2 separate regions of the Homo sapiens genome follow, and region 1 is linked to region 2. Evidence: fine-mapped expression QTL. Tissue or cell type: whole blood. Region 2 holds a variant in brackets; the other region holds the start of a gene. Each region is shown on its reference strand, or each on the opposite one. Region 1 holds the start of CRIP1 (cysteine rich protein 1). Region 2 has its middle 29 kb from the start of NEK6.

Region 1 (2,848 bases), not on the chromosome of region 2:
TCCTTGCCCAGAGAGGTCACCCTCTCGGCTGCAGAGGCACAGACAGGCCCCGGTGAGACGCTGCAGGACGCGGCGCCTACCCACCACTGGCGTACCCGCCTCTTGCAGCCAGCTCTGCCCAAGGCCCTGTGCACTTAGCCCGCATCCGCCCAGCCTGGCAGCCCACCCTAAGGTCTCAGCACCCTCCATGAGGGGAACATCTCCAATCCCCAGAGCCAATACAACTAAACAAAGCGCGGGGTCGCTGGTCCCCGGGGCACTTTCGGGTGCGGCCGGGAATCTTGCTCCTGAAGGCTGGGTGGGGCTAGAGGGCGAGGCCGAGGGTCAGGGGTCGCGGCTTAGGTCAGCAGGGCCTGGGCCTGGCTGCCTGCTTTCAGCCCCGGGCCTCTGCGGTGGCAAGGGTGGAGCCTGCGACAGCCCTTCTCGGCGGGGACAGGGGTGACTTCCCACTTCCTCCCTCCCCTCGGGGCGCGCGGGCGCGGGGCAGGGAGGCGGGCGCCCGGGATCGCGCCCCGGGCGTCGGTTTCCGCGTCTGTTTCCACTTAGCGCTGGGGGGCGCGGCCCCAGCCCCGCGTTCCTTCCAGCCCTGCGGGTCCCCCACTCAGGGCGCGCCTGAGAGGAAACGGCAGAGACCGTAGGACCCAGAGACGGGGAGGCTCAGAGCCAGAGGTAGCCCGCCGAGCACAGCAAGACCACTAGCAGGCAGAGATCGCCAGGGCCCTCGGACGCAGGGGCCTCCACCCTCATCCCGGGGCAGGCGGCGGGCCAGGCTGAGGCGTTTTCAGGCTGGGGCGCCGCCCCAGGGACCCAGCGCCCCCGGTCCTCCTGAGCGGTCCCCAGCCTCGTCGCCCCGTCGGCGGCGCCTCCTCGCGGGGCCGGTGTGGGCGCGCTCACCGAAGTACACCTCCTTGTTGCACTTGGGACACTTGGGCATGACGGCTCCGGGTCCGGTGCAGGCGGCAGCGGCTGGGGCGGCACGGGCTGCAGGCGCGAGACTGGGTGGATCCGGCCTGGTCCGCGCCTTTCAGGGACCCCGGGACCCCGCCCCTTGGAGACCCCGCCCCTCGCGCCCCGCCCTCTGAACCCAGGACTTGGACCCTGGGGACCTCGAATCTAGGCCCAGGGCCCAAGAAAGATCATCTGGTCCACCCCCGCCTTCAGGCAGGACCCGGGCCTGACTGAGGACGGAGCGCGGGGGGGCAGGGGGCCATGGGGACTTACTGAGAGGGCGCAGCTCTTTAGGCGAGTTCAAGCCGCGCCCCTAGCCCAGCGCTGTGATGTCTCCCGGGTCCAGTTCCGAGGCAAAAGGCTCACCCGCAGCAGGAAACGCCGCTCCCACCCCCAGCCCTACCCCACCGGCACCCGCCCGAACCCCAGATCTGCCCGGGCCAGGACTGGACCAAACATCACTAAAATGCAAAGAGATGCAAAGCAGCCCGCGCGCTGATCCTGCCCTCCCCAGGACGGAGGGTCGGGGACAATTGCCGGAGAGCCCCCGCTGTTGCCCCCCACCGAGGAACCCACTCTGACCTTCCATCCCACGCAGGGTTACGAGGCCGCCCCTGTCAGTCCCCTCACTCCCAAGGGACGTCCCCGCCTCTGCTAGCTCCCCTGACCTCCGCTGCTCTGGGAGGTCCATCGGACCGCAGCGGGAACATCCCCGGGGAATTCAAAAGCGGGGACTCCCAGAGAGGGGAGCTGTAGCTTGAGGACCGATCGGCTGCGGGGGCTGCGGGGGCTGGGGTTTCGGCCGGCAAAAGAGAGTTCAGCCACCCCCAGGCCGGCTCGGAGATGCCCGGACCGGGCGCAGGGAGGGGCCCTTATCTCTGCGGGTAGCGCCCAGGGCGGCCAGAGCGGTCCAAGTACGCTGCAAAGTTGAGGCGGAGGATGGTCCCGGTGCCAGGCGGAGTCTGTCCCGCCTCACCCGCCCCCCAGATTCAGGAGGGCCAAGGGGGCTGCGCTGGCCTCGGGCTTTGGGGTCAGCCCTCTAGCTGACTGGCCAGCCTCAGGAAGGGAGCCCAGGTCACTGTCAGCCCCCTCTCCTGTCACTGAGCAGGGGAGCCCTCTCTCTGCAGGCCCTTCACCTCCATGCTGCATGGAGCTCCCTGGGAGCTCCCACAGCACAAGGGCGGTGCTGCCCTTCCTCCCCACCCACCATCCCTCCTGTCAGCCATGTTAACCAGCGTCCTTATCTCCCCTCGATCTCCACTGGGCCTGTGCTGGCCCTGTCCCCGCTGGGGGCGCTGGAGACCATCCTCCTGGGCCCCAGGAGCCGCTGGCCTACCGCTGTCGGGCCCTGAGCCCTAACTGCACCTGTGATCCCAACCTCACTTTCCCTGAATCCTACCGCACCCCTGTCGGCACCTCGAGGCCTGCACTTAGAGGAAGAGAAGCCGCCTGCCCTGCCCTGTCTGCCACCAGTCCCCAGCTTGGGGAGAGGGCAGGGGCAGCAGGGCTGTAGGACGGCCAAGGCACAGGCGTCTGGCACAGAGGCCACACTCCAGAGAGCCCCACACCAGCACACCCAGCCCAAGGCCACATCCTGCTTGCCCTCCTCCTGGCGCCCCTCTAAGGCCACAGTTCTGTCCCCCGACTGGGGCTAAGTCCTGGGGTCTGATAGGACATTCCACAGGGGCCCATTGGAGCCCTCCTCATCCCCCATTCTGAGACCTCAGAGATAAGGTTTCCAGAGTAGGGGTGCGCTCCTGTCCTGCAAACTTGGAACCCCCACTCTCCAGCCCATGAGCCTTGAAACCCACTCTGAGGTCTGGGCCCACCTGCCATCTCCACTGAGTGTGGGGCATCGTGGGACAAACCTGCAGACAAGCAGAGGGAGAGGCAGAGGCAC
Region 2 (2,899 bases):
GAGAAGAGAAGAAGGAGGAGAAGGCACCTGGGGAGGTGGGTCCTTTTTTCTATTCCCCAAGTCGTTTCTCCATCTATCCTCTGGGTTTGGGAAGTCAGTGGGGAAAGGTTTGACTGTTTCTCCAGCCAGATAATCATCTATGAGCAGTGGCCCCTCACCCTCACTCTGCTTGTCACCATCTGGTACATTACATATTTAGTGTATGGTTATTGTCTCTCTCCCCTTGAGAAGAGGGACTTTATTTTATAACCCCAATGCCTAGAACAATGCCTGGCACACAGAAGTCACTCAACACCTGCTTTTTTTTTTTTTTTTCTTTTTTTTTGAGATGGAGTCTCGCTCTGTCCAGGCTGGAGTGCAGTGGCCCAATCTAGGCTCACTGCAACCTCCACCTCCCAGGTTCAAGCAATTCTCTGCCTCAGCCTTCTGAGTAGCTGGGATTACAGGCGCCCGCCACCACGCGTGGCTAATTTTTATATTTTTAGTAGAGTTGGGGTTTCACCATCTTGGCCAGGCTTGTCTTGAATGCCTGACCTTGTGATCCACCCACCTCGGCCTCCCAAAGTGCTGGGATTACACGCATGAGCCACCATGACCGGCCAATACCTGCTTATTAAATGAGCACGTGCAAAAGATCGCCTCCCTCACCCATGTCTGCCTAGGGAGGACAGTGACCACGTTCTGTCCCTATTCCATGTTCCTTCTCACTTGCCTTTCCCCCAGAGTGAACACCCAGTGGAACTGATGAAAGTGTAAGCAGCTCTTTACTCAAAGGTCCAGATATTTGGCTAGGCATGGTGGCTCATGCCTGTAATCCAGCACTTTGGGAGGCCGAGGTGGGTGGATCACCTGAGGTCAGAAGTTAGACCAGCCTGGCCAACATGGTGAAACCTCGTCTCTACTAAAAATACAAAAATTAGTTGGGTGTGGTGGTGGGCCCCTTTAATCCCAGCTACTTGGGAGGCTGAGGCAGGAGAATCGCTTGAACCCAGCAGGGGGCAGAGGTTGCAGTGAGCCAAGATCATGCCATTGCACTCCAGCCTGGATGACAGAGCAGATTCATCTACCAAAAAAAAAAGTCCAGATATTTGTTCCAACACCATGTTTCTGTGTTTTGTGTGTGCATATGCATGTGTGAGTCTGTCCGTCTGGGGCTGGGATGAGGGGACTAGGGGCTGTGCCCCTCATGCAGCCATTTCCTTCTACTCTATTCCCTGCCCAGGTAGGAGTCTGGTTAAGTGCACCCCGAGAAGCATGGAGAGACCCCAACTCCCCATCGGGGCCACCCTTCAGCCTCCGGGAGGGGCCTGGAACTCGGCTTTCTCCAGGAGATTTGGGGAACATGTTACCGGGGTCCTTCAGCGGCCTCTCATCCACTTCTTGGCTGCAGAAATTCCCTGGCCACCTGGGCACGGAGACACTCTGGCTCCACCAGCCCACGCAGAAGCCTGAACTCATGTAATTAGACATAATGACACATGGCGGGAGCTTCCAGAATCTCACAATCTAATGACACACCCACCTCCCAACCCACCTCAGGGGCCAGCAGAGCTCCTAATTAGGTCTGGC[G/A]CCAGCAGGTGGGAGATCCAAGGGTTGGGGGAGCAAGGAGAGAATCCTGGCCTTGGGGTTTGTCAACCTGTGTGCCAAGTCCAGTTTGATTACTTTTTGACTATGAGGCGCTGGGCAAGTCAATTCACTTCTTCAAGCCTCCATTTTCTCATCTGTAAAATGGGGTTTTGTATTTACACCACAAAGTGCTGTTGTGAGGAGTGTGAGTTCCCTCCTGCTGGGAGGCTGTCAGTGGGTGGGTCTGGGGGAGACTGGCCTGCCATGCCCAAGGCCAGGGCCTGTGTCCTGGGGTGGGACCTCTTTCAGGTGTAGGGGAAGCTGCCACACCTTCAAAGGCCGATTGGACAAAAGGCAGTTCTCCAAAACTCATTGAAGGACCACTGCCTCATATTACCGAATTGACTGGTTTTTCAAAAACTTGTTTAAGAAATATTCTTTTTGGCTGGCATGGTGGCTCACTCCTGTAATCCCAGCACTTTGGGAGGCCGAGGAGGGTGATTCACCTGAGGTCAGGAGTTCGAGATCAGCTTGGCCAACATGGCGAACAAAACCCCATCTCTATGGGTGTGGTGGCACACACCTCTAATCCCAGCTACTCAGGAGGCTGAGGCAGGAGAATCACTTGAACCCGGGAGGCGGAGGTTGCAGTGAGCCGAGACTGCGCCATTGCACTCCAGCCTGGGTGACAAGAGTGAAACTGTGTCTCAAAAAAAAAAAAAAGAAAAATTTTAAAATTATGTTTAATGTACATTCTTCCAATGGCTATATTCCATTTTAAGGACTATTTAATTTGTCCAAAGTTCATAATACATTTGCTCTTCTAGTGCTCCTCCTCCTCTTCTTCTTCTTCTTCTTCTTCTTCTTCTTCTTCTTCTTCTTCTTCTTCTCCTTCTCCTTCTCCTCCTCCTCCTCCTCCTCCTCCTTCTTCTTTTAGATGGAGTCTCGCTCTGTCACCAGACTGGAGTGCAGTGGCACGATCTCAGCTCACTGCAACCTCTGCCTCCTGGGTTCAAGTGATTCTCCTGCCTTAGCTTCCTGAGTAGCTGGAACTACGGGCATGTGCCACCACATCCAGCTAATTTTTGTATTTTTAGTAGAGACAGGGTTTTACCATGTTAGCCAGGATAGTCTCAATCTCTTGACCTCGGGATCCGCCCACCTCAGGCTCCCAAAGTGCTGGGATTATAGGCATGAGCCACTGTACCCAGTCTATTCTTCTTAAATAATATCCTATGAATATGTTTTTCACAGTATCACATGGGAACTTTAGCTTTTAGACTGATTGTTTTTAAAAACCTCTGAAAAAAAGTAATTTTCTGTCTTATCAGAA

Evidence for each region. PIP is the estimated chance that this variant, and not a neighbour inherited with it, causes the effect.
Region 1: CRIP1 starts here. The variant in region 2 is the best candidate, but not a certain one, in a credible set for the expression of CRIP1 in whole blood (TOPMed, PIP 0.59).

What each region holds. Positions count from the first base shown.
Region 1 is chr14:105,485,346-105,488,193 of GRCh38, reverse strand. It overlaps CRIP1 (cysteine rich protein 1), which reads right to left and starts at 1,308. Exons shown (of 6, transcript NM_001311.5): 1 at 1,222-1,308; 2 at 895-995; 3 at 1-28. The coding sequence starts at 934. RefSeq lists an enhancer at 1-122 and silencers at 369-578, 749-878, 929-1,028, 1,039-1,088.
Region 2 is chr9:124,227,512-124,230,410 of GRCh38, reverse strand. No RefSeq gene overlaps it. Among named protein-coding and RNA genes, the nearest start is that of NEK6, 29 kb to the left of the region's middle. The variant G/A (reference allele first, on the strand shown) is at 1,570.